4 linked regions of the Homo sapiens genome follow. The protein of the gene in region 2 purifies or fractionates together with the protein of the main gene of each other region. This does not show direct contact. Each region holds a gene or a part of one and is shown on either strand. Other genes may lie near its edges. The genes, in order: KXD1, EXOC1, EXOC6B and EXOC7.

Region 1 (7,025 bases), on a different chromosome or scaffold from region 2:
GCTAATTTTTGTATTTTTAGTAGAGATGGGGTTTCACTATGTTGGCCAGGCTGGTCTCGAACTCCTGACCTCGTGATCCACCTGCCTCGCCCTCCCAGAGTGCTAGGATTACAGGCGTGAGCCACAGCACCTGGCCACCTCTGCTCTTTTGGAGCTGACGTTGTGGCGGTGACAGGCAAACGGGTTAGCTGATAACTAGGATAATTTCATGAAGAGGTGAACCAGTGAAGCAGTTAAATCAAGGTAAAGGGTGGCTGGGCGCAGTGGCTCAGGCCTGTAATCCTAGCACTTTGGGAGGCCAAGGCAAAAGGGTCGTGTCAGCCTAGGAATTTAAGAGCAGCCTAGGCAACATAGCGAGACCCTGTCTCTTAACAAACAAACAAACAAAAACAAGGTAAAGTAGCCTGGGCGCGGTGGCTCATGCCTGTAATCCCAGCACTTTGGGAGGCTGAGGCGAGTGGATCACCTGAGGTCAGTAGTTCGAGACCAGCCTGGCCAAAATGGTGAAACCCCGTCTCTACTAAAAAATACAAAAATTAGCCAGGCGTGGTGGCGGGCACCTGTAATCCCAGCTACTTGGGAGGGTGAGGCAGGAGAATCGCTTGAACCTGGGAGGCGGAGGTTGCGCTAAGCCAAGATCGCGCCATTGCACTCCAGCCTGGGTGACAGGAGTGAAACTCTGTATCAAAAAGAAATAAAAAAACGAGGTCAAGTAGTAAGAGAAGCGGTAAGAGTGACGGGAACAGGAGTCATTGACCTCTTGGGAGAGGAGACATTGGAGGTGGTGATGATTTGCTGAAGCAGCCACACACGTTCAGCTTGTGAGGACAGCAGTTGTTAGGCAGGGGATGAGGGAGGAAGCTGGCAGATCTGTGCAGGTGAGAGGTACCTGTGGCCTTGGGCTCATGGAAGTGGGAGGTGATGGGATTCTAATGTGCTTGGGTACAGTTTACAAATACAACCTCTCTTAGTTTGCCCAATACCTCCAAATTCCTGGGGTGGCACACCTGAGGTTCAGGTGGCATGACTGAGCCACAGTCACACATCCCCACTGTAGGATACCACCACGGTTGGGTTAGGTTCCAGCACATGGCGGTCCCGGCCTGGCCTCTTGGTCCCACCTCACCTGGTGACTAGTGCAGACCACTCTGTTCTTGCCTGTTTCAGGCAGCGGAGGAGGAGAAAGAGATGGACCTCCCGGACTCGGCCTCGAGGGTCTTCTGCGGCCGCATCCTGAGCATGGTGAACACAGATGATGTCAACGCCATCATCCTGGCCCAGAAGAACATGTGAGTGGCGGCTGGGGGACCTGAGCGTGGGAAGGAATCCACAGGCTGGCCAACATTCTTGTCTTGCCCGCCCCTACCCGGGGCCCACACTGGTGATAAAATGAAGGAAATGAGCAAATCTGTCGCTGGCTCCAAAGTAAATTCCTTCCCGGCCTGGAGGCGAGGCCTTGGCACAGGAAGCAGGGCTTTGGGGAGATTTTGCAGCTGCGGATGGCTTGGCGGGGGCCGCAGGGGCTCCTGTCCCGAGACCTGGGGTGGGAGAGTTGAAGGACCAGAGGGGGCCACATGCAGGTTTTTTTGTTTATTTGTTTCTTGTTTTTGAGACAGAGTTTTGCTCTTGTTGCCCAGGCTAGAGTGCAATGGTGTGACCTTGCCTCACTGCAACCTCCGCCTCCCGAGTTCAAGCGATTTCTCCTGCCTCAGCCCTCTGAGTAGCTGGGATTACAAGCATGTGCCACCATGCCCAGCTAATTTTTGTATTTTTAGTAGAGACGGGCTTTCATCATGTTGGTCAGGCTGGTCTCGAACTCCTGACCTCAAGTGATCCACCCGCCTCGGCCTCCCGAAGTCCTGGGATTATAGGCCTGAGCCACTGTGCCTGGCCTTTATGCAGGTTTTATGCTGGTGCGCCTACTTCCTGGTGAAGGACTAGTCTCCCAGAGCCCAGGCTGTGTCTGCACAGTGCCCAGGGTCTCTTGGAGCGGACATAAAGGCCTCTTGTCCTCACTGGGGTTTGGTGCTGTGGCTGCTGAAACCTTGCCCTAATTCAGGCCTGCCCTGTGGGGAAGAAAGGCTAATACCAAGCTTGTCCAACCCTCGGCCTGTCCAACCCTTTGAATGTGGGCCAACACAAATTCGTAAACTTTCTTAAAACATTACGAGATTTTTTTTGTGATTTTTTTCTTTTTCTTTCTTAACTCATCAGCTGTCGTTAGTGTTAGTGTATTTTATGTGTGGCCCAAGACAATTCTTCTTCCAATGTGGCCCAGGGAAATGAAAAGACTGGACACCACTGGGCTAATACAGTCTTGGAGTGGAAGCACAGCCTCCCGCAGCTTTGTTTTTGTGTCTCTGAGCCAGAGGCTCTTCTCAGCTGTCACGACACAGTACAGACCTGATTTCCTTACCTTTTCTCCCAGACCCAGAGCAGCTCCGAGTCTCAATAGTACCTGTCTCTCTCCTGTGTCTTTTTTTTTTTTTTTTTTGGGAGACAGAGTCTCACTCTGTCGCCCAGGCTGGAATGCAATAGCATAATTGCTGCTCACTACATCCTCTGCCTCCTGGGTCAAGTGATTCTCCTGCTTCAGCCTCCTGAGTCGCTGGGATTATAGGCATGCACCACCATGCCTGGCTGATTTTTTTTTTGTGACGGAGTCTCGCTCTCTCGCCAGGCTGGAGCACAGTGGCGCAATCTCAGCTCACTGCAACCTCTGCCTGCTGGGTTCAAGCGATTCTACTGCCTCAGCCTTCCAAGTAGCTGGGACTACAGGTGTGCGCCACCACGGCCAGCTAATTTTTGTATTTTTAGTAGAGACGGGGTTTCACCACGTTGACCAGAATGGTCTCAATCTCTTGACTTCGTGATCCGCCCGCCTCAGCCTCCCAAAGTGCTGGGATTACAGGTGTGAGCCACCGTGCCCGGCCCTGATTTTTTTATTTTTAGAAGAGATGTGGTTTCACCATGTTGGCCAGACCTCAAGTGATCCACCCTGCCTCAACCTCCTAAAGTGCTGGTCTCCTTTTTTTTGAGACATAGTTTCGCACTGTCACCCAGGCTGGAGTGCAGTGGCGCAATCTCAGGTCACTGCTATGTCCGCCTCCCGGGTTCAAATGATTCTCCTGCCTCAGCCTCCCGAGTAGCTGGGATTACAGGCGCCCGCCACCATGCCCAGCCAATTTTTGTATTTTTGGTAGAGACGCGGTTTTCCCATGTTGGCAAGGCTGGTCTCGAACTCCTGACCTCATGATCTGCCTGCCTTGACCTCCCAAAGCGCTGGAATTGCAGGCATGAGCCCCCATGCCCGGCTGGTCTCCTGTTTTTTTAGGTCAGATTCAGACCTGGCTCTGGGAAACTTCTAGACTGAGGGGAGACAAAGCCAGACACAGACCCTCCTGGCCCTATGGTGTCAGGGCTGGGCCAGAGGAACAACCTGGGGCTAGTGGAATTAAAAGAGTCTGATTGGGCCAGGCACGATGGCTCACTCCTGTAATCCCAGCACTTTGGGAGGCCGAGGTGGGTGGATCACGAGGTCAGGAGATCGAGACCATCCTGGCTAACCTGGTGAAACCTCGTCTCTACTAAAAATACAAAAAATTAGCCAGGCATGGTGGCGGACGCCTGTAGTCCCAGCTATACTCGGGAGGCTGAGGCAGGAGAATGGTATGAACCTGGGAGACGGAGCTTGCAGTGAGCCGAGATCGCGCCACTGCACTCCAGCCTGGGTGACGAAGCAAGACTCTGTCTCAAAAAAAGTCTGACTGAATAGAGGTAGACAAGGCTACATGAGAAGGACACACTTGAGTAGGGTTTTGAAGGTTGAATAGGAGTTTGCTAGGTGGCTCAAAGAGTAGGTAGAACTCTGCAGGACAAGGGAACAGCCCATGCAAAGGTTGTGAAGCAGGCAAGGGCTTGGCATGAACAGTCTTCTGGGCCAGGTTGGGCAGGGCCCTGAAGCTGGGCAGTGAAGCTCATGCCCTCTCTCCACCATCAGGCTGGACCGCTTTGAGAAGACCAATGAGATGCTGCTCAACTTCAACAACCTGTCCAGTGCCCGCCTGCAGCAGATGAGCGAACGCTTCCTGCACCACACGAGGACCCTAGTAGAGATGAAACGGGACCTGGACAGCATCTTCCGCCGTATCAGGTGGGTGCTCAGTGCCACCCCAGCCCAGCTGACCTCTGCCTCCACCTCCCCATCTGAGCCTCAGTTTCCTTCACATACCAGGGTAAAGGGAGATTTCTGTTTGTTTTACAAGGCTTCACTGCGCACTTAAGTGTCTGGGACAATTCCAACCCTGGGATAAAATCTTGACGTAAGTTTATTTACTGATTGATTAATTGATCGAGACAGAGTTTTTTTTTTTTTTTTGGAGACGGAGTCTCGCTCTGTTGCCCAGGCTGGAGTGCAGTGGCGCGACCTCAGCTCACTGCAAGCTCCGCTTCCCGGGCTCACGCCATTCTCCTGCCTCAGTCTCCGGAGTAGCTGGGATTACAGGTGCCTACCACCACGCCTGGAGAATTTTTTGTATTTTTAGTGGAGATGGGGTTTCACCGTGTTAGTAGTCAGGATGGTCTCGATCTCCTGACCTCGTGATCCAGCCGCCTTGGCCTCCCAAAGTGCTGGGATTACAGGCGTGAGCCACTGCGCCCGGCCGAGACAGAGTCTTGATCTGTGGCCCTGGCTGGAGTGCAGTGGCGTGATCTTGGCTCACTGCAACCTCTGCCTCCTGGATTCAAGCGATTCTTGTGCTTCAGCCTTCTGAGTAGCTGGGTCTACAGACATACTGTACCACACCCAGCTAATTTTTGTTGTTGTTGTTTTATTTTTGAGGTGGAGTCTTGCTCTGTCGCCCAGGCTGGAGTGCAGTGGTGCAATGTCAGCTCACTGCAACCTCCGCCTCCCAGGTTCAAGCGATTCTCCTGCTTCAGCCTCCTGAGTAGCTGGGACTACAGGCGCATGCTGCCACGCCCAGCTGATTTTTTGTATTTTAGTAGAGACGAGATTTCACCGTGTTGCCCAGGCTAGTCTCAAACTCCTGAGCTCCAGCACTCTGCCTGCCTCGGCCTCCTAAAGTGTTGGGATTACAGGTGTGAGCCTAATTTTTGTATTTTGTGTAATTTTTGTATTTTTTTAGTAGAGACAGGGTTTCCCCATGTTGGCCAGGCTCATCTCGAAGTCCTGGCCTCAGATGATCCATCCACCTCGACCTCCCAAAGTGCTGGGATTATAGGCATGAGCCATCATGCCCAGCCTTGCAGTTTATTTATTCTTAAAAAATGTAACACAGTGCGGCTGGGCGAGGTGGCCCATGCCTGTAATCCCAGCACTTTGGGAGGCCGAGGCAGGCGGATCACGAGGTCAGGAGATCAAGACCATCCCGGCTAACATGGTGAAACCCCGTCTCTACTAAAAATACAAAAAATACTAAAAATACAAAAAATTAGCTGGGCGTGGTGGTGGGCGTCTGTATTGCCAGCTACTCGGGAGGCTGAGGCAGGAGAATGGCATGAACCCAGGAGGTGAGCCGAGATCGCGCCACTGCACTCAAGCCTGGGCGACAGAGCGAGACTCCGTCTCAAAAAAAAAAAAAAAGTAACATAGTGCTAGACACATAATGAAAAGGCAGGAATGGCTGGGCACAGTGGCTCATGCCTGTAATCCCAGCAGTTAGGGAGGCTGACGCAGGCAGATCACCTGAGGTCAGAAGTTTGAGACCAGCCTGGCCAACATGATGAAATCCCGTCTCTACTAAAAATACAAAAAAATCAGCTGAGCATGGTGGCACGTGCCTGTAATCCCAGCTACTTGGGAGGCTGAGGGAGGACAATCATGTGAATCCGGAAGGTGGAGGTTGCAGTGAGCCAGGATGGCACCACTGCACTCCACCCTGGGCGACAGAGTGAGATTCTGTCTCAAAAAAAAAAAAAAAATTTATCAGAGAAGAGGCCACATGTAAGAAGCAGCCTCGCAGGGGGAGCCCCCAGCCAGTGCCTAGGCTCAGAGCACCCAGAGTCTAACTAGTTGGGGGTTGGTGCCTACCTTGGGGCTGGAGGCCGGCTGGTGGGCGACTGTCAGGGCCGTGGCTGCTGGGCCGAGCACCTAGAGAGAGTGAAGATGTGAGGTGATGAACAGTGTGGGGGTTCTCACTCCCGTCTCCCCTTGCCCTCAGCTGGCAGCAGGGGCTTGTGGCCAGCACCAGGCCCAGCCTACCTGCTCAGCAGGTTAAGCCCTGTGTGCCTTCTCTCCCCTGCAGGACGCTGAAAGGGAAACTGGCCAGGCAGCACCCAGAGGCCTTCAGCCGTAAGTGTCACGCAGGGTTCCTGCTCCCGAGCACGTCAGCACTCTCCACCCAGGGCAGGCTTCTGGAAGGCCACCTTGGGGCCTGATACTGAGACCAGGCTGTAATGGGCAGTGGGTCTGGGGAAACCTGGGGTGGGGGCAGGGTCAGGGTGCTGGCCTGGTCCTGTCAGCAGCTGGCAGAGTGGGCACTAGGACGGGAGTCCGTGCCCCGTGGGGAGGCCGCACAGGAGAATGTGGATAAGCAGCATGACAATCCTTATCCCTGTGTGCATTATGAGCCATCTCAGAACAGAGCACGGGCTCATGTGACACCAGCCCCGACATCGTCTCGCCTTCCCTGAGCCCCAGCTTCGAGGATCTGTCCCATGTCCAGCTGTTACCCACAGTCACCCATGGGGTGGGGACTGTGAGTATCACCGTTTCATGGAGAGGGAAACAGAGGCCCAGAGGGGCAGGACTTGAGTTCGCATCTGTCTGGCTAGAGAGCTCGCGTGTTCTCTGGGGTACCATTCCATGTTGCCACCACCTTAAAGGGCTCTGCAGGCTGAGCCTGGGTTCACACCATCTGTTGAAAAGGCCGACAGCTCTCCATCCCAGGGCCTCCAACAGCAGTTTACAGAGCAGGGAGCTGGGCTGAGGGGAGGTCATATACCTAGCCCAGGTAGTGCAGTGAGCCAGGTTCGCCCTCAGGGCTCCTGTAGGCCTAACCCCAGAT
Region 2 (7,025 bases):
AAGCTCACATGTATGAAATACTACACATTTGCATTGAAAAATTGTAATACATATCCACACAAATATGTATATGAAAAATAAAATAGAGATTTAAAATTATTTTAAGTTGATGTTTGAAAAGATGCTGAGTTAGATAAGAAAAAGGAGATAAGTGGAAACCTATTTTTATAACAGTTTTATTGAGATTATGTATCATAAAATTTACCCTTTTCAATTGTATAATTGAGTGATTTTTGGCATATTCACAAGGTTGTATAACCATCATTACTATCTAGTTGAAAGACATTGTCATCACCCCAAAAAAGAAACTCCATACCCATTAACAGTCAATCCTCGTTTCCACCTTCCCTTCCAGCTCCCGAAAACCACTTATATTTCTGTATCTATGGATTTTCCTACTCTGGATATTTCATATAAATGGAATCATACAATACGTGGTCTTTTGTGGCTGACTCCTTTCACTTAGCATAATCTTTTCAAGATTCATCAATATTTTAGCATGTTTCATTACTTCATTTCCTTTTTTTCTTTTTTTTTTTTTTTTTTTTTTTTTTTGGAGACAGAGTCTGGCTCTGTCTCCCAGGCTGTAGTGCAGTGGCGCAGTCTCGGCTCACTGCAAGCTCCGCCTCCCGAGTTCATGCCATTCTCCTGCCTCAGCCTCTCCCAGTAGCTGGGACTACAGGCACCCACCACCATGCCCGGCTAATTTTTTTGTATTTTTAGTAGAGACGGGGTTTCACCGTGGTCTCGATCTCCTGACCTCTTGATCCGCCCGCCTCGGCCTCCCAAAGAGCTGGGATTACAAGCGTGAGCCACCGCCCGTGCCCGGCCCTTTGTTTTTTTTGCAGCCGAATAATAATCCATTGTATGGATATACCACATTTTGCTTATGTATCATTTGATGGACATTTCTGTTATTTCCATTTTTTGGCTATTGCAAATAGTGCTACCATGAACATTCATGTACAAATTTTTGTGTGGACATATGTTTTCAGTTCTCCTGGAGTGGAATTGTTGGATTATAAGGTAGCCCATGTTTCACTTTATGAGGAGTCACCAAGCTGTTTTCCAAAGTGGCTGCACCATTTTACAATCCCACCAGCAATGTATGAGAGTTCTGTTTCCTCTCATCTTCACCAACACTTGTTACACCAACACTTGTTATTTTCTATCGTTTTTATTTTAACCACCCTCATGGGTGTAAAGTGGTTGATACCTCATTGTGGTTTTGATTTGCATTTCCCTAGTGGCCAGTGATGTTAAGCATGTTTTCATATGCTTATTGGCCATTTGTATATCTTTGGAAAAATGTCTGTTCAGGTCTTTTATTCAGTTTTTAATGGGGTTATTTGTCTTCTTATTGTTGTAAGGGTTCTTTATGTAGAAAACTATATTAAAAGTTTGAGCAGTGGGTTGAAGATTTTTTTCTTAAATCTTGTGTGTGTGTGTATACTTGGTGAGCATTTCCAAACATTTTAGAGTTTGATAACACTGGTTCTCTAATTTTATTTCCAAACTTACAGCTTTGTATTTTTGTGATATAGGTGTATTCATATATTAAATCATTTTTCCTAGGCTTGTTAACCAAAAATTATTTTCAAATCATAAATTCAGAAGTATAAGATGGAATGATGTTGAGGGTGAGCTTAATATCTATACTCCACATTTTTCAGCTGAGAAAAGATGACAGCAATCAAGCATGCATTACAAAGAGACATTTTTACACCAAATGATGAACGCCTGCTGAGCATTGTGAATGTCTGCAAAGCAGGAAAAAAGAAAAAGAACTGTTTTTTATGTGCCACAGGTGGGTATTTAGTAAGAAAGAGTACTTGTTTTGTATCCTTTTATTATTTAGAAGATATTTCCTCTTTGTTTTGAATATCCTCATTGTCTCTGTAATTGGAAAAATTGTTGGGTCAACACATTCCTAGTTAACACTTGGCTTTGACAGGCTGTTAATTGTTGTCAATCTGGTGGCAGTGAAATAGTATCTCATTGTGGTTTTAAATTATATTTCCCTATAATGATGAGATTGAGCATCTTCTCATGAATTTCTTAGTCATTTCATTCTGTTGTGTATGAAATTTACCTGTTTAAGCCTTTTACTCATTTTTCTGTTGTGTTGCTTGTCCTTTTACTGATTTGTACAAGTTCTTTCTATAATCTGGTTATCAACCTTTTGTTGGTTGTATGCATCCCAGTTAGTGGCTTGTCTTTTCACTTTTTATGATGCCTGTTAATGAAATTTATAATTTAAACTAAATGAAATTAATTAATCCTTTATGGCTTTCCCTTTTGGTGTCTTAAAAGATCCTTCCCTGTATCTTTTGTGCAGTCATAAAAATATTTTCCTAAATTCAAAAGTTTTATAATTTTGCCTTTTACAGTTTAGTCTTAGTTCACCTGTGTTGACATCTGTCATGGTGTGTGTGAGCATTTCTGGTTGTCATCTTATATGTTATTTTTATTTTGTTTTTGTTCTTTATTCCACCTAAATTTTAGAAACAACTTGTCGAGTTTCAGACTTTGTTGGGATTTTGATTGGAATTGTTTTGAACCTATAGTTCAATTTGGAGAGAACTTGCATTTTTATTGTATTGAATCTTTGTGTCCATGAACATGGTACAGTTCTCTATTTATCTAGGTGTTTTTTAACTTTATAAGTTTCATCATTTTCTCTAAAGGTTTGTCATGTATATTCTTGGATTTACTCCTGAGTATTGGTTTATTCTTAGATTTTATTTGATAGTCGTGAAAGCGCTTATTAACATTAATACATTTTAAAATCATATATTGTTAGAATTCTACAATGAATTGTTGGTGTTTTATATGGATGTCTATCAATCTTGCCAAACTTTCTTATTAATTCTAATTATATGTAGACTTTTTGAAAGTAGTGATATTTTTCTTCCTTCCTTTATAGTTTTTATATCTTTTATTTTTGTTGGTTTAGTTTCCTAGTTAGGACTATCAATACAGTCTCCATCTCAAGGAGAATGACTTCATTTTCAAGCATGGTATTTGGTATAGGGTTTTTATAGCTATACTTTACAGTGTTAAGTAAGTTCCCTTCTATTCCTGGTTTCTTACACTTTTTTAAAAAATCATGAATGGGAGTTGAATTTTATCAACTGCTTTTTCATATCATTGATATCATAAAATTTTCTTCCTTGTTAGTGTAGTATATAATTGTACTTGGTTTTTGAAATGATAAATTGACTTTTTAGAATGACCTCACTCAATCGTAATGTATTTGTATTAGGCCATTCTTGCATTGCTATAAAGAAATTCTTAGGCCAGGAGCAGTGGCTCATGCCTGTAATTCCAGCACTTAGGGAAGCTGAGGTGGGCAGATCGCTGGAGCCCAGGAGTTTAATTAAGACCAGCCTGGGCAACATAGTAAGAACTTTATATATAAATGTATTGTTGCTCTTTGAAATGGTATTTTGCTCTTTCAAGCCTCACAGACTTTACTTATGTCAATCATTCTTTAGATTTTTACCTCATACTTTTCTTTAAAACTGGTCTGAATTTATTATTAATATATCATTCCTTTATTTTTCAAGGAATCTCCTCTGATCTTCTAGTCTGACTTAGATGCTTCTATTAGGATTCTGTGCTTTCCTCGGTCATAGCACTTGTTGCAAAGTATTACACCTCTTTTAGTATCAGCTACTAGGCACCTGAAAGCTATACTTGCAATGAGTGAATGAAGAATGAGTGAAAGGGGTAATATTTCTAATAAAAGTGTGCGTTTTACTCAACAGTGACAACTGAACGCCCTGTGCAGGTTAAGGTGGTCAAAGTCAAGAAATCCGATAAGGGAGATTTCTACAAAAGGCAGATTGCATGGGCCCTTCGAGATCTTGCTGTGGTAGATGCCAAAGATGCTATCAAAGTAGGTTTTTCTCAGTTCTTTGACCTGTGTTCAGAAAGCATCTTTCATTTTATAACATGGTATTACATATTCTAAAATGATCTAAAAACAAATTAATATATATGTTTGTTTTCTTATTTTTTTGCTTTTTTTAAGCTATAATTATGTTTGTGCACAAGCTACATAAACTAGAGAAAAATTACTTTGACTGTATACATTTCTGTGTTTAGATTAAGTATAATTTGTATAAAATCTATACATAGTATGGATTTTAAAGTGGTGTGTCATGAGTTTTTTTTGCTTGTTTGTTTGTTTGTTTAATCAAAATCATATAACCAAAGTGATCCTTCCTTAGTCTTCATGAGTAAACATAGAATCACCAGCTGGGGCAGCCAGACTGGCCTTTTGAGGCCACCATGGCTTTGATGTTTGTGGATCAAAAAAAAAAAAAAAGAAATGATAGTGGGTTACATACCTTATTTTAAGGAATGTAGATAATAAGATCTATGAAGATATAAACTTACACGTTATAGATAAACCACACTCAAACTCCAAGAAAGGTGATTAATGTGATAATCACATTAAAGGACCACCTATGTTCCTGACAGTTCAAAGCTTTCACAGCAATACCCTTTTTTCAAAGCAATCAAGTTGGCCTCCTTTGATTAAATTAGGTGCTTCCTCCCCCTGGCCCTCTCTCACTCTGCCCTTCATCTTTCTCTGCAGCCCTAACACACCTCCATAGCACAAGAGAATACTTTGTACCACAACTACTTGTATGTCGATGGGATGAACATAATAGCAAGGCTTATACTAGTGAAACTACAGGTGCTCTTTGACTCTACAAATCTCATACATTTACTAAAAAGGCACAAAGTAAAAACAACAAAAAACAAAAAAACTGCCTGTGTAAAGCAATCTGTTAAAATAAAATTCTGATTTTACCCTTACTTTGGTACAAACCTCCAAGGATCAAAAATCTGGACAAAATGACAGGTAGTTGAGTTGGGTGCAAAAAAAATGAAGTAAGAACAATTTGAGGAGAGCCCTCTATATCTGTATAATTCAGATTTCTTCCAAATGTAAATCATGCCTTTTCTTTAAGTATTCTAGGCTTACTGGCCCTTTGTTTTATCCCTAAGGAGCACCCAATGCTTAGAAAAATGTGAAATGTAGAAACAGGATTTGACAGAAATTTAGAAAGCTAGAGATTGGAAAGAAAATTATAATGGGATGTTTAAAAATAATTTAGGCCAGGCGTGGTGGCTCACGCCTGTAATCCTAACACTTTGGGAGGCCGAGGCTGGTGGATTGCCTGAGCTCAGGAGTTCAAGACCAGCCTGGGTAACACAGTGAAACCCTGTCTCTACTAAAATACAAAAAATTAGCTGGGCGTGGCGGCACACGCCTGTAGTCCCAGCTTCTTGGGAGGCTGAGGCAAGAGAATTGCTTGAACCTGAGAGGCAGAGGTTGCAGTGAGCCGAGATTGCGCCACTGCACTCCAGCCTGGGCAACAGAGTGAGACTCTGTCTCCACAAAAAAAAACAAAAAAAAACTTCTGTAAGTAATTTTTATTACCATGGGGAGGGATCAAGAGTGGAAACTTTTCTGGTTGTTTTCTGTTAAGACAAAACACTTTAAGGGTTTTTAAAACTGCACCTTTATTAAAAAACATTTTTCCCTTCAGTAGTTTTGCACTTCGTAACCCTGTTGACTTGCATAATTCAGTAACATTGCTGAATGCTTATTTGAATGCATTCTCACAGCTGATGCCTCTTGCAGACTTGCTTAATGGATTTTTTTTTTTTGCATTTTATGTAGGCACCTTGGTGTGTGTATGCTATATATGGATATAAAACATAAAATTTTTATACATAACTTAACATTAGCCATTTAGTATCACACATTGATTTGTGAGTGTTGCCACTGGAGCACTCAGCTTCTTTTATGGTATTATGGGAAATATTCCCAGGGAAGAGATTATTTCCCATCAAGTTTCATATTGGTTGCCAATACTCTTGTTGTGTTTTTTTGTAAGTAATAATGCAATTACCTTTTCATTGTATATGCAGGTTTTAAATTTTTGACGCTTCAATTCTGTTTATTAAGCTATAAATTGAACTAATTAGTAGTTCCATGCTGCTGTAATATGATTGTTGTACCAAAGGTCAAGTCCTGATTCCTGAGATACTCCAGTTCTTCACAGTGAAAGTCTGATATAACTTCCCTTACTTTAATGTATTTACATTTCCCCCAAATAACACTTTAAATGAATCAAATATATTATTATTCTTTTACCCTGTAGAACATTAAGAATATTTGAGCCTATTTTTTAATTCCTTGGATGTGAAGTATACATCCATAAGTTTGTTTGTTTGTTTGTCTGCTTGTTTGTTTTGAGACAGGGTCTCACTCTGTCACCCAGGCTGGAGTGCGGTGGCACAATCTTGGCTCACTGCAGCCTCCACCTTCCGGGCTCAAGCCATCCTCCCACCTTAGCCTCCCGAGTAGCTGGGACTACACGTACATGCCACTACACCCGGCTAATTTTTGTGTTTTTTGTAGAGAAGTGTTTTGCCATGTTGCCCAGGCCAGTCTCAAATTCCTGGGTTCAAGCAATCTACCCACCTCGGCCTCCCAAAGTGCTAGGATTACAGGCGTGAGCTACCAAGCCCAGCCTGTTTTTTTATATAATAGTCAAGTAGTTCTATTCATTCAAGGGAGAAATATTAGCCTGATGTGGATTATTGCTATAATGTGGCTTAAGAGACTTGAAGAAACTATAGTGTAATTCTCTCAGATTGGTTGAGCTTCTTTATCACATGAAAGAACGTTAGGCCAGGAACAGGGCTCATGCCTGTAATTCCAGCACTTTGGGAGGCCGAAGCAGGAGGATCAACTGGATAACATGGGGAGATCTTGTCTCTACAAGAACATTTTAAAAATTAGGCATGCTGGTATGTGTCCGTGTCCCCAGCTACTCAGGAGGCTGAGGTTGGGAGGATTGCCTGAGCCCAGGAGGTGGAGGCTGCAGTGAACCATGATTGCACCACTGCATTGTAGCCTTGGCAACAAAGTGAGACCCTGTCTCAAAAAAATAAAGAACTTTGAGACCTAGCAGCACTTTTAGCTTTCAAGATATCTT
Region 3 (7,025 bases), on a different chromosome or scaffold from region 2:
GGTATTCTACAAGGAAAATAGAAATGAAGTTGAAGATCTTAAAATGGGATAGGAGATGGATATTTGGTATCGATACTAGTTTTAATCTAATGAAAAGGTAATAGCCCTTTTATAAGGAAGCATCAATATGTATAAAACAAAAACTGTTAGTAATATGAAGAGAAACGGACAAGCTGCATAATTGTGGGAGAATTCAAAACACCTCTTTCAGGACTTGAGAGACCAATGAGAGAGCAAGTAACAAAAATTATAATTAAAGAATTTGAATCTCAAAATCAATGAATTTTTACAATAATGACATACACATCTTTGTATCCTGCCCACAGAAATTATTTTCCATGTCAGTTAACTTTTCTGATTTGTTGATATGAGGTTATACATGGACATTATTTGTAATTTTTATTTTCCTCTGTACTTATTTTCTCTTTTGTATTTCTCATGTTTTTTATTTTCTCTTTATTGTTTAATCAATTTTGTCTAAGATTTGTTTATTTAATTGATTTTATTTTTAACTTGGTCTTTGGTTTATTTAATCAAATCTTCCATATCTTTTTTAATTTCATTAGGTTCTGTTTTTAATTTAATTAATTTTATTCTCTCATTTACTTATGGTTCATTGGCTTTCCCCCATAGTTTCATCAGTTCAGTGCTTAGTTTGTTTATTTTCAATCTTTTGTGTTTTGTGATGTTTACATAAAGAAATACAAATTTATTTTGAAAATGGTTTTAGCCACATACCATAGTTTTTGATATGAAGTATTTTATAGTTGTTCATTTTTAAAAGTGTCAATTTTGTTTTCTTCTTTAACCAAAGAGTTATTTAGAAGTGCATTTTTAAATTCCCAAGTGTTAAAAATATAGATCATGGTTATTGAACTTGCTGTACTCAGCTGTTCCCTGGCTGAACCTGGTGTTACCTTGTACCAGGGAAGTGTTGAATTATTTCTAGGGAAAGAATTTACCAGGTAAAGAATTTGCCAGATAAAGCGCTAAACAATTAAATAAATAAAAATTTAATTGCATTTTTACTAATAACATGTTTTTCCTCCTTTGTCTTTTATTTACTTTAGTCTTACTGTTCTGATCCAAACCTTGTGTTAGATTTGAAGAACCTCATTGTGCTTTTTGCTGACACACTTCAGGTATGTGATTTCTGTTTACATATGCTCATCTAGATTGGTATTATAATCAGCTCTAAACCTTTTTCTTGACTGGGTCTGGTGGCTTTTGCCTGTAATCATAGTTCTTTGGAAGCCTGAGGTAGGAGAATTGCTTGAGTCCAAGAGTCCAAGACTAGCCTCAGAAATATAGTGAGACTCCATCTATACAAAAAATAAAAACATAAAAAATCACCAGTAGCAGTACCACATTCCTGTAGTCCCAGGCACTCTGGGGGCAGAGGTGAGAGGATTGCCTGAACATAGGAGTCCAAGCCTGTGGCAAGCTATGATCTCGCCACTGCACTCCTGCATGGGTGATAGAGACCCATCTCAAAAAAAAAAAAAAAAATCTGACTGGGTGCAGTACCTCACGCCTGTTATTTCAGCACTTTGGGAGGCTGAGGCAGGCGGATCACTTGAGGTCAGGAGTTTGAGACCAGCCTGGCCAACATGGTGAAACCCTGTCTTTAGTAAAAATGCAAAAATTAGCCGGATGTGGTGGTAAGTGCCTGTAATCCCAGCTACTTGGGAGGCTGAGGCAGGAGAATTTCTTGAACCTGGGAGGTGGAGGTTGCAGTGAGCTGAGATAGTGCCATTGCCCTCCAGCCTGGGCGACAGGGTGAAACTCTGTCTTAAAAAAAAAAAAAAAAAATCTACATAAGCTTGGATAAGTTACCTGTTAGTTTTAAGTTGGGTTTATTATTTTCCTAGGAACTAGGTCTTTTTATCTCTTTTATAGCATTTCCTGAACTTTACCCTGAGCCATTATGTTTTCATATGTAGTTTCCACCTCCTTTTTTTCTCTCACATCAAATCAATTAATTGAACTACTGACTACATTAGTTTTTCAAAATGTTCTTAATTCATATATGGCAGCTGAGTTAGTTTGCAGTTTCTTTAACTACCATCTTGAATAATGGTGGTTGATTTGAACCACATATTATATCTAATAGAATAGCATTAGAAGTGGATGAGATTCGAAGCATTTTTACTTTCTCTCCCTTCTGTGAACGCTTACTATAGGTAGTAGGACTTATAGGAAGGGATGTAGGGAGGACTTATCCCATAGTATACCCTTTATATATAGATTTTAATTTTCATCTTTTTCTCACTGGCTTAAACATTTTGCTAGGTATTATTTAATTTTTGAGAGATAAATGCTAGATATTAGGTGTGAATGAAAGATTCTACTAAATGGTTTTATTTAATTTGCTGTTCAAAGAATGTAATGTTTTTCAGTATCTTATCCCTCTCATTTTGCCAAAAAAAAAAAAAACCGAAAAAAAAACTCCTTCCTTAGACACTGAAGTGATTTTCTTATTTTGTTTCAGGTGTATGGTTTCCCTGTAAATCAGCTTTTTGACATGCTGTTAGAAATCAGAGACCAATATAGTGAAACTCTGCTAAAGAAGTGGGCAGGTATTTTCAGGTGAGAAATTATCTATAGTCATATGTGTGTGTGTTCATGTACATTAGTGTACACACATGTATTTATGCGCAAAGGTTTTCAGATGTTATAGGCAACAAGTATATGTTACTTATATTTTGTAGCTACTCTAGGTTATGATCCAGAATTCAAATAAACTGTTAGAACGTCCAAAATTAAGTTCCCAAGATATCCAGTCTCAGTGTATTAGTGTCTACTGTAGTGGGAAGTCCCCAAACCCTATTTTGCCTTTTTGTTTCCTTCGATAAATATCAGATTCCTTGGTTCATGTCATTCAGATCATCTTGGTGTCATCTTATTCTGTTATTTGGTTTTCATTTTGAGGTTCATGCCTAGTCTACAACTCAATTATAGTGAGTAACATTTGAGCACTTAGGAATAATTTAGGCTTTCGGAAAATCTGTTTGGATGACTCACTCATGTTGTTCCTCATCATCTTCCCTCTCCACACACAGCAAAGGGGCATATTACAGCCCAGTGTTTGAAGCCTGTTATTTAAGTAGTTATTGCAACATGCATACAATAATAAGAAAGTTATTCTGTCACATCTATCACTCACAGATGTCTTCTCGAACTGTGCTCTTGGCACATAATCCAGGTCAACTCATTTGACTTTCTTCTCTTTTTATACCTTTACTCCTTTACTTTAAGTGATTATGCTGCCTATTGCAAGACCCCTTTCCCTGATCAGTTTGTCCTCTTTTCAAACTCTTATAGCTTCAAGATCTTACATTAGTCCTTTACTCTTACTCTTCTCGTTTATGAACATATCTCTGATCATCACTTAGTCCAATTTATCTGTATATTAATATAAATATTTATATTTCTAAAACCTAGATTTAGCTAATGGTATAATTGTATTTAAGGGAGTCTTATCTCTATAGGATATTTGAAAATTAATAACATGATATATCCATAGTCTTAGATGCTCTGATCTGACGCCTTCAGTGAGTCTTCTGTTTTGATTTTGGTAGTATGTTCCCTACTATTAGAGAATGCCCAGTTTATTTAAGGAGAGAGAACCTATCGATTTAAAAAAAGTCATCCTTGATATAGAGCAGTAGGTAAAGTAAATGAAAATAGTTTGAATTTATTATTGAAGTTACTCTGTTTGCCAATTTTGAAAGTTAGAATAGAACATGATTTTAAAAACCTTATCAATGGGCCAGGTGCAGTGGGTCATGCCTGTAATCCCAGCACTTTGGGAGCCAAGGTAGGAAGATCCCTTGAGGGCAGGAGTTTGAGACAATCCTGGACAACATAGCAAGATTATATCTCTACAAAAAAATTAAAAATTAGCCCGATGTGGTGGTGAACAACTGTAGTTTCAGCTACTTGGGAGGCTGTGGCGGGAGGATTGCTTGAGCCCCAGAGTTTGAGGTTACAGTGAGCTACGATCATGCCACTGCAATCCAGCCTGGGTGACAGAGCGAGACCCTGTCTCTAATAATAATAATAATAATAATAATAATAATAATAATAATAATGTACATTTATATATCATATTAAACCAAACAGAAAATATCTTTGCCTTTTCTAGAGCACACATTCTTTTGTTGTTTACTTCTCACTTACATTGAAATGTTCTGTCCTATTTGTAAATCTCAGTTCCTAAGAGATATGTTTATAATTGTGGTCCATTTGTTTCAGAGGATAGTTTTCTTTTTGTCTTCTTTAAATCCAAAACCAAATAGCTATATTGTGGAAGGAATATAATAGGGACTGGGAAATGTTCATTTTGGGTTGTGGCATATATATTAAGATTGGAGTTCATCAGAAAAATATTTGTGATTAACCCACCTTCCCTCTGTTCCCCTCCCCTACCCCCCCACTTTGTCTATCCTTCCCTTCCCTTTGTCTATCCTTCCATTTATAGAAACATACTTGATTCTGACAACTACAGTCCTATACCAGTAACAAGTGAAGAGATGTACAAAAAGGTGGTAGGACAATTCCCATTTCAAGATATAGAACTGGAAAAGGTAAGGAATACTTTAAAATAAATTTCTCTGGTTGTTTTGGCATCCTCTTAAAAGCTTTCATTGGATCAGTTTGATTGAAAGCATTACCTTTAACTCAATGGGTTAGAACTCTAAAACAATTTCAAAGGATTCTTTTTTCTTTTTCTTTTTTTCACTTTAATCACCTTTCTGACGATGAAGGATTCTTTTTGGGGAAGACCAGAATTTCCTGATTTGGGAATCAGCAGATGGCTTTGGATCCTATTACCTCTGAAGTGTTTGGAGGATTGCTGCGGATGTTCTAATTCAGTTTACACTTTGAAATACTTGTTTTTATTAAAATTTAAAGACATTTTTTCCCCACAACATAAAATTTACACTTTGTGGTGTACAATTCTGCTGATTTTGACAATGTATTGAGTTATGTATCCATTACCACAATGTTGATACCAAATAGCTCTATTATAAAAAAAAAATTATTTAATGATGCCCCTTTGTAATACCCCTCCCTTAACCCAGCCCCAGGACAGCAGAAACCTGGGCTCTGTGCATCTACTTTTGCCTTTTTCAGAATGCCATATAAATGGAATTGTGTAGTATATAACTTCTTGAGACTTACTTCTTTGATATAACATAATGCTTTTGAGATTCGTCCAAATTGTTGCATGTATCATTGTTCATTCATTTTTATTGCTGAGTATGTAACACAATTTGTTTATCTCTTTCCATGATGAAGGACATTTGAATTATTGTTTTATTTAAATTTATGTCTTTTTAATATCAGAAAACTTTGGGAGATATTTTCTTATATTTGAGTTTGTTAAGGAGACAATTCACAATGTGAAAGAATGTTCTTTTTGCAACCTAAATAATTTATAAATATCTTCAATCTTCGTTGGTTTGTGACTTGATTTCATTACTTCTTGCATTTACAGCAACCATTTCCAAAAAAGTTTCCTTTCTCTGAATTTGTGCCAAAAGTTTACAACCAAATTAAAGAATTTATCTACGCTTGTCTGAAGTTTTCAGAAGATCTTCATCTAAGGTATAATACAAAATAGTAGAAATGTAACCAATGCTAAGATTGTGACTCCATGTATTTACATATTCTGAAAAACTTTTGATAGTCCCGTCAGCCCTGATTTTGGAAATCTTAATAATTAGCTTTTCACTGCATGGCACTGCTGTATTTCTATAGTCACGATGAAAGAGAAGATTGGTAACTTTTGCATAATTTTGAAAATTTATATTATCTATCTTATTCTTTATAGATTTGCATTTCAACACTTATTAATGACAGTTTACTAGAAAATGGTAGGCTGGATGCAGTGGCTCATTTTTGTAATCCTAGCACTTTGGGAGGCTGAGGCAGGAGGATCGCTTGAATCCAGGAGTTCAAGACCAGCCTGGGCCACATAGTGGGACCCCCATCTCTATAGAAAAAAAAATAGACAAAAAATACTGATTTTGACATTCTACTTAATGAAATGTTAAGGCCAAAAGGGGAGTATCAGATAAAATCCTTTGGAAACACTATTGCTCTACTTGTATATGTATATTTTCTATACGTGCTAGAGTGTAGGCTCCTTTGTTTCTTTATTCATGTATTGGTTTATTCACCGTAGATTTTGGCTAATGTATTATTTGTCAGATGCTGCTTGGTATAGAAATAATTAAGTTGCTGAAAATGTGGTCCCTGTCTTCAAGGAGTACCTAGTCTAATTAAGAAGCTGAACAATTAATAAGTGCTGGAGCAACATACAAGCCAAGCCAAACACAAATGAGGATGTTTGTGTTCCATCCTTTTGTAGGGTGGAAACATTTTATCTTTGTTCAACACAATATCCCCTGTACCCAGCTCGGAAAATTTTTTTTAATGAGTGTATGTATGAAATGAATGGAAAGCATGGTATGCCAGGCTACTCTGAAAATAAACATAGTTGGGGAATAGTTTGAGTCACTTCTTTGTTAACTATTCTTACTAAGAAAATAAATGAAACATGGGGTTTGTACAATTAATTTGTCATTTTCTCTGAAAATGAAATTGTTTTCATAGAAATGTTCTCTTGAAAATAGATTGTCTTTTGAAGTTACAAACCAAAACTTTTTTACCCTGGGTTTCCATCCCCCACCTGCCTGGCCTCCACTTCATTAATATAAGTGACCTTATATCAGATAATTGTCTGTAGGGTATGTTAGGTATATTATTGTAGATAAATCATTACAAGTTGATTGCAAAATTACTTTTTCTATCTTCTTTTGGAAGAAAGGTAATATGGTAAAGGAATAATATTAGTAATGGGATAATGTCAGATGCCTTTTTCTTGCCTGAATATGTGAAGTTTTTGCCTGAAAACTTCCTTTGATACTTTTCACATTTAATATTTAAATAAAATATTTAACTTGGGGATTTTAGAAAAAGCTAGATGCCTTTTACTCTTCATTTGGCATTTATCT
Region 4 (7,025 bases), on a different chromosome or scaffold from region 2:
ACATCTCGTCATCTGTCTGTTCTTTCTCCCCGGCATCATATCCCTTATAGTCTGTGCTCCAGGTAAACAGTGTCTCTGCCAGCCACAGCTTGGCAAGCCCGGCTATGTCTGGCCACTGAGAGATGCTGCCCGCAGCTCGATGATGTGCTGGGATGTTCTGGGGTGGGGCTGCTGAGATTGCACTGAAAAAGAAAGCTGGAGAAGCCGGGGCTGCTCCCACCCAGGCTGGCCCCCTGTCCAGCTGCTGCTGTGGGCACATGCCCTAGTTGTGGCCTGTGGCACCTGCTTATGACAACAAGCTTTGGGTAGAGCTTACTTACACCCTTGGTTTCTCCAGTCCCTGCCTGCTCATGCCCCTCAGAGAGTGAGGTGTCTGTTCCACAAGAGCACCCGCTCCCCTGCAGGCCTTTGTTTAGGGTTTGGAGAAACAGGCAGAGCAGGGGCTGCCCTCAGGGAGTAGAGCATTAGGGAGCTGGTGCCTGGGGCCTTCTCCCTCCAGTGTGGAAATCCTGCCCACCAGCCAAAACCTGCTGCAAATGGGGACTGCCAGCCCAGCCTGTGGGCGCAGCTGCCTGCACAGTGGATGGAGCAGCTCTGTGCCTTCTGTGTGGTGGGGAGTGGCTGTCTCTATGAGGCTGCTAGGATGCTTGGGCCCCAGCCAGTCTGTGCTTGCTTCCTCTTCTGCCTGGCTCCCTGACAGGTCCCCCAGAAGCCCCAGAGCCCTATTTGCACTGCCTTAAGAGTGCCCGCTGGCCATGCAGCTACCTGGCCTTTCAGGCAGGAGGGATCTGATCTCAGGTGGCTCACAGTGGACCACATCCATCCTTGGGCCAGAGACACTAGAGGAAAACTCCAGCTGTGGGGTTTCAGAGTTGTCAGGAACTGGTGGGCTCAGGACCGATGTCAGGCTCTAGGGAGTCAGGCTCTGGGGATGTCGGTTCCCACTTCTGAGGAGAGGGACAGGGAGGCCTCCCAGGTGGTGAAGCACCGACCTCAGCATCCCTGGAGGCAATTGGGAGCCTGACGGGTTTGGCGGCTGCTAGATCCACATCGGCGACCCACATCCTGCCGGCGTGCACCTGCGTCTGTGTCTGCTCCTGGTGGGTTGTGGGGCAGGAATCAGATTCACTCATTAGTAAGCCGCACTCGCTGAAGGGGAGAGCATGAGCAAGGGAGACGTGAGCCAGGCCTTGGTTATTAGGAGCTAATTATGGGCCAAGTATGGTGGCTCACGCCTGTAATCCTAGCACTTCGGGAGGCCGAGGCGGGCGGATCACCTGAGGTCAGGAGTTCGAGACCAGCCTGGCCAACATGGTGAAACCCTGTCTCTACTAAAAATAGAAAAAAAATTAGTTGGGTGTGGTGACGCACGCCTATAATCCCAGCTACCTGGGAGGCTGAGGCAGGAGAATCACTTGAACCCAGGAGGCAGAGGTTGCAGTGAGCCGAGGTCGTGCCACCGTACTCCAGCCTGGGCGACAGAGTGAGACTGTCTCAAAAAAAAAAAAAAAAAAAAAAACAAGCTAATTGTGGTGTTGTGCGGTGCGGTGCGGTGCAGGTGTAAGCAGTGAGCCTCCAGACACTGCCCCTTTCTCCCTCAGCTTTCTGGGGAGCTGCCAGGACACAGCAGCCTCACTGTGCTCAGATAGACTGTGGGGGTGGGAGGCATCCCGGGTGCCTTTCTGCCCCTATACATTTTGTTAACAAGGCAGCTGCACTTGTCTGCTTGAGATGCGAGTTGATTTCCCGACGTCTTCTGGCCCGAGATGTCTCATTCCCACAAAGGAGGCTGACCCAGGCGGCTGTGGGTGCTGCCATTTTGTTCTCATTGTTTTCACTTGTGATACTAACTATTGTTTTTCTCCCCCATGCCAAGAGCATGTGCCCTCTCCTTCCGTGCACACCCTCCAGGCGCTCTGTGTGGTGGCTTCTGTTAACCCCTTCTTGACTTTTGGATTTTTTCTTGTCGCTTTGGTGGTTTGGGGAACTCTGGTGTGGGGCTAGGCTGCCTCTGGGTCTCTGAGCCGTCCGCCTTGGGCACAGCGCTCCCCCGGAAGTTCAGTCAGGGTGGCTTCCTGCTGGCTGCTGTTTGGCGTACGTCCCAACACTGAGCATGCTCGGAGAACTCTGCCTGGAGTTTGGGGCTGGGCTGGGGGCCTGCTGGCTTCAGGGTGCCCCCCAGGCTCTCCCACCCTGGTTGTGCCCTCTGGGTATGCGAGCTTTGTCACGGGCTCCTCCGACCTGAGCCCTCGCCTGTTCTGATTATGATGCCACTCCATATTTTTGACTTCTCCTGGTGGATCTTGGTCCATCTTCATTACCCTCTGTCCTTTCAGAAATGAGCTGAAATCCAGAACAAGGAGGGTCGGTAGTAGAATCAAGGCTCCATTTGGAGAAGGAAATGACTCCTTTCCTTCATCCTTGTCCCCAGCGTCTCTGGTGGTCTCAGGGAAAGGCCTGCTCACTGTTGGGGAGCTGGGTGCGGGGCCTGGGGGGCAGGTGGAGGGCCGCTGCTGTTTTCTCTCACTCATTTCCTAGGTCTTCTTATCTCCTCTCTGTGTGGCTCTGGTGACAGGGACGATCCGTAAGGCTCAGAACCTTCTGAAACAGTATTCCCAGCATGGTCTAGATGGGAAAAAGGGGGGCTCTAACCTCATTCCTCTGGAAGGTAATCACCCTGTGTTCCCCTCCTGTCCCTTCCTCCTCCACTGTGTGTCCACGCACTTGGCAGGGCAGAGCCTCCCCCAGGAGGGCCTCGGGAGAAACCCTGAGGGGAGCAGGGTGGGAACGGCAGGTCCCCGATGCCACTCGGGCTTCAGCGGGCACAGGGACAGTTTCGCAGCCCTCGGCCTGGTCCTCTCTGGCTGATGGCAGCTCTGCCCTCCCTGAGGCTTCCCTCCTCCCTTCCCTGTCTCTGTCCTTGTCTCCTGTGTGAACTCAGAAAAAGTTATTTGTCTTGGGGCAGCCCTTTCACGCTCAGACCAGCAGTGGCAGGCCCCAGCTGGCCGAGGCCTCCCGGCCTTCCCATCTTTAGAAAGGGGAGTGTGTGCAGCAGAGGACAGGCAAACTGGGGCTTTCCCCAAATACAGCGAGGTGGGGAACCCCCCTGGGGCCAAGCATCAGCTCTTCAGCCCCTCCTTGGTCCTTCTCCGCTTTCCCTGGGCCTCCAGGCTCGGGGAAATGAGCAGCTAAGGACGGTCCTGGGTGCTCACTGAAGTCAGGCTTGAAACGGCTGTTCCCAAGGTGGCTTGAGGTAGAGGAGGGGCTCAGGGCCCTCTCCGATGCCCCCTTCCCCATCCCCATCTGACGTCCCCCTCCTGGAGATGAAGGGCTTCTTCCCTGTACCCCAAGGGGCGGCCTGCCTGGCCCCTGGATAAACGCTGCTTGTGTTTGTGCGGCCGACATCTCGCCAGGTCACGAGCATGATTTCCGAGTTAAGCACCTGTCCGAGGCCTTGAACGACAAGCACGGGCCGCTGGCCGGTGAGTACCGCAGCCCAGCCCGAGGGCAGCCGCTGACACTGCCTTCGCAGCGGTCCCCGGATGGCCTGCTCCTGCCTGGCCCAGCTGGGCCCACTCTGCTCTGAGGATGGGCCAGGCCTATGCGCCTCTCTCTCCACTCTCTCTCTTTTGGGCCTAGGTCTCCTTGCCTCTCTCCAGATGGGAGTGCGTGCCTGTCTGTCAGGCCTGGGCCAAGGGGAGAAGCCGCTGCTCCTCGGAAAGCAGGCAGAGAGGGAAGGTGGCTCCCTTGAGGGCAGGGAGCCCTGACGTCCGCCTCCTGCAACAATTCAGAGCTCTGATCCCCTCGGAGCCCATCCCTTGGCACATAGGACCAGGCAGTTCTGCCGCCGGTTTTGCCTGCAGGCGCCCCCGCCGTGGCCTCCAGTAATAGGGTCTGGCCTCCTCCTGGGGCAGCTGGCAACCCCTCCTCTCTGGGACTTACCAGCCTCTTAGATTTTGACCCCATGCCAGCCAGCCTCAGAAGCTGCAGCCAACCACCCTCTTAGATGTTCCAGAAGCCCTGACTGGGCTGGTCACTTCCTTCACAGGCCCCGCATTTGCCCACATGGATGACCCCAGTGCCAGCCTCCTTGAGGTGGCACAGCCACCTGCCCACCCTGGGCTGCCCTCTTTCAGGTACAACTCAGAATGCTCAGTCCTGGGGTCAAACCACCTTATCCAGGACGCTGATTCAGGAATCTTCCCTCCTTATCTTTCCATCCGTCACTCTCCTGCCTCTGGTGTCTGATCCCACTGTCTGCGCAGAGCCGAGAATGAAGCCAGAACAAAGGCTGGGCTCAGCTCCTTTTATTCCCCTCGAACCTGGCGGGGCCTGCTGGCTCCCTTGCAGCTTTCTGCCAGAACAGTCAGCCTCTTCCCCATCCTCTGCCAGTGTGGGGTACAGGCCAGGAGCTGGGGGACCCACGCCGCCCCCAGCCAGGAGTGTGGCTGGCCCCAGACCAGCAGCTCAAGAGTTGTGCCATCCCCCAGGGAGAGATGACATGCTGGACGTGGAGACCGATGCCTACATCCACTGCGTCAGTGCCTTCGTCAAGCTGGCGCAGAGCGAGTACCAGCTGCTGGCCGACATCATCCCCGAGCACCACCAGAAGAAGACCTTCGACTCCCTGATACAGGTCCCGCCCCGCCCCGGGGGCTCTGCAGCCAGCCCCAGCAAGAGCTGTCACAACAGACTCTTGCAGCCCTCAACTCCACCCACCACCACCACCTCGTGCCCTGGGGACCGGTCCTGGGTGGACGCTCACCACCTCCCCGTCACCCCTCTTCCTGCACACTGGCCCCCCTACATACTGCAAGGATCCCCCACTAGCCCAGAACTAGCTCCCACCGCCCCACCCTTCCCTGAACTGTCTCCCTGCCCCCTCAGGATGCCCTGGATGGGCTGATGCTTGAAGGGGAGAACATCGTGTCTGCTGCCCGGAAGGCCATTGTGCGACACGACTTCTCCACGGTGCTCACCGTCTTCCCCATCCTGCGACACCTCAAGCAGACCAAGCCTGAGTTTGACCAGGTGCTCCAGGTATGTGGGCGAGGGGCCCTCAAAAACACAGCCAGGAGGCATCGTGCTGCCGGGTGTGGCCGCCCCATCCCTCCCTGGGAGAACCCCATTCTCTGTCCCACACTTCTGCTCTGAAGGTGCATGGAAGCAGCTTAGGAAGGGCCCTGGGTGAGTGAGATGCTCACAGAGCGACTGGAGGTGAGCTGGGGGCTCCCCTGTGCTTCCTCAGGGCACGGCTGCCAGCACAAAGAACAAGCTGCCTGGCCTCATCACATCCATGGAGACCATCGGTGCCAAAGCGCTGGAGGACTTCGCAGACAACATCAAGGTCCCTGCTGTCCTCCCCTTTCTCCCTCCCTCCCGGCCCAGCACCACAGTGACCTGGCCCTGGGGGACTCTCAGAGCAGGCCTCCAAGAGGGTGCGTTGTCCCGGGGCAGCCAGCTGCGCCACTGGCCTGTCAGCACCCATGTGCCTTCCTTTCCTTCCTGGGGCCTCCAAGCCCTCTGAAGTGGGAAGGGCCTCTCCCCCTTGGTCCAGCCTGGCTCAGCCTTTGTGCCTGAGAGGTGTCCTAGCACCCGTCTGCCAGGAGGCGGCACCATGAGCAGGTGCACTGGGGCATGGGGTGGGCTGGGGGCTGCTTCAGGGAACCAGAGGCTGTTTTTCCACAGAATGACCCGGACAAGGAGTACAACATGCCGAAGGACGGCACCGTACACGAGCTCACCAGCAATGTGGGTGCTGCCTGAGGACACCAGGGAGAGGGGAGGAAGGAGGGCCCAGGCCCAGGCCCAGGGCCAGGCAGAGTACTGGTGGAAGGGACTCAGCCTGGCCCAGAGCCGCTCGCACCTTTGTGAGCAGTCCTGGGTGGCAGGATGGACAGTGACATGTTTAGTGTCTCTAGCAGACAGGGCCTTTCCTGGCAGGCTAGAGTGAAAATGAAGTTTCCAGCCGCGCTCTTCACTGGGCGGATCCCAGCCCTGGGCTGGCCCTGGGCACTCAGAGGGGTCGCTGTGGGAGGCCGTCGGCCGGGCCTGCCACTTGCCCTTCTGCACCGTTTTCTTCCCACCCAGGCCATCCTCTTCCTGCAGCAGCTTTTGGACTTCCAGGAGACGGCAGGCGCCATGCTGGCCTCCCAAGGTACTGGTACCTCCCAGTTGGGCCCCCTGCCCCACTCGCCTCCTTGCCTGGAGACATGGGGTTAGAGGGCAGGTAGCAGTGAGGAGGTATCTCCAGTCTGTGGAGGGGTTGAGGTGTGCTCAGCAGAGGGTCCCTGGGGCTGAGCATCAGGAGAGCAAGGTTTGCCTGCACCTTTCAAGACCAGACACTGGACCTCTGGCCCCTCCCTCAGCCCCTTTGACCGTCCTCGCCCTGGAAGCAGTGTCCTCACTCTGGGAGCGGTGCTGGTTGGTTGGAAGGTGTCCTTTCTGCCCCTGCCCCCCTCCCAAATCCTTCTCTCGTGTCTGCCTGCTCTCCTAATCAGGCTCGCTCAGCTGGCCTTCAGAGGGTAGCAAGTGTCTCAGGGCCCGCTGGGCGTCTTCCTGCTGGCCCTGCCCTGGGACTGGAGCTCAGGGGGTTGGCCTGTAAGCAAGAGCACCTTTCTGGGTCATTCCAAGCACTGAGGTCCCTGGGCCCTCTCCTCCCGTCCCATTTTGGGGGCAAGGAGCCTGTGGGCAGCCTCCAGCCTGCAGTTCTCAGCTCTCTACTTTCCAGGGTGTTCCCTGGTCCTCAGAGGGTCCCGCCTGCTGTGTCTTGCTATCTGTGTTTTGGCTGTCGTGGGGAGAGGTCTGCTTAATTCGGGTTGACATGCCGTTTCTAACCTGTTTTTTGCACTTTGCATCTTTCTCCCTCCTTTGTCTCTCCCTCTGTCCCCTCTGTGTGCACTGCCTTTCACTCCGTAGTTCTTGGGGACACATACAATATTCCTTTAGACCCCCGAGGTAAGCAGTGCGGTTCTGCAGCCCCCTCCTGTCCCTCTGAAGCTTGGTGGGTGAGGTTCCCTGGGGAC

What was found.
Region 1: the proteins of EXOC1 (region 2) and KXD1 purify together in Homo sapiens (co-immunoprecipitation; 3 studies listed by BioGRID and IntAct, with this or other methods). This does not show direct contact.
Region 3: the proteins of EXOC1 (region 2) and EXOC6B purify together in Homo sapiens (affinity purification with mass spectrometry; 4 studies listed by BioGRID and IntAct, with this or other methods). This does not show direct contact.
Region 4: the proteins of EXOC1 (region 2) and EXOC7 purify together in Homo sapiens (affinity purification with mass spectrometry; 5 studies listed by BioGRID and IntAct, with this or other methods). This does not show direct contact.

The regions. Positions count from the first base shown.
Region 1 is NC_000019.10:18,560,869-18,567,893, forward strand, and holds part of KXD1 (kxDL motif-containing protein 1), read left to right. Parts: intron 1-1,167; 5' UTR 1,168-1,188; coding exon 1,189-1,289; intron 1,290-2,897; exon of another isoform or gene 2,898-2,911; intron 2,912-4,000; coding exon 4,001-4,153; intron 4,154-4,265; coding exon of another isoform or gene 4,266-4,326; exon of another isoform or gene 4,327-4,341; intron 4,342-6,263; coding exon 6,264-6,310; intron 6,311-7,025.
Region 2 is NC_000004.12:55,856,641-55,863,665, forward strand, and holds part of EXOC1 (exocyst complex component 1), read left to right. Parts: intron 1-1,673; 5' UTR 1,674-1,683; coding exon 1,684-1,807; intron 1,808-3,770; coding exon 3,771-3,901; intron 3,902-7,025.
Region 3 is NC_000002.12:72,494,018-72,501,042, reverse strand, and holds part of EXOC6B (exocyst complex component 6B), read left to right. Parts: intron 1-1,070; coding exon 1,071-1,142; intron 1,143-2,491; coding exon 2,492-2,589; intron 2,590-4,483; coding exon 4,484-4,589; intron 4,590-5,503; coding exon 5,504-5,613; intron 5,614-7,025. UniProt on the Homo sapiens protein: Component of the exocyst complex involved in the docking of exocytic vesicles with fusion sites on the plasma membrane.
Region 4 is NC_000017.11:76,086,786-76,093,810, reverse strand, and holds part of EXOC7 (exocyst complex component 7), read left to right. Parts: intron 1-2,575; coding exon 2,576-2,668; intron 2,669-3,329; coding exon of another isoform or gene 3,330-3,482; intron 3,483-3,639; coding exon of another isoform or gene 3,640-3,767; exon of another isoform or gene 3,768-4,069; coding exon of another isoform or gene 4,070-4,136; intron 4,137-4,490; coding exon 4,491-4,636; intron 4,637-4,887; coding exon 4,888-5,040; intron 5,041-5,248; coding exon 5,249-5,347; intron 5,348-5,688; coding exon 5,689-5,751; intron 5,752-6,090; coding exon 6,091-6,157; intron 6,158-6,918; coding exon of another isoform or gene 6,919-6,957; intron 6,958-7,025. UniProt on the Homo sapiens protein: Component of the exocyst complex involved in the docking of exocytic vesicles with fusion sites on the plasma membrane.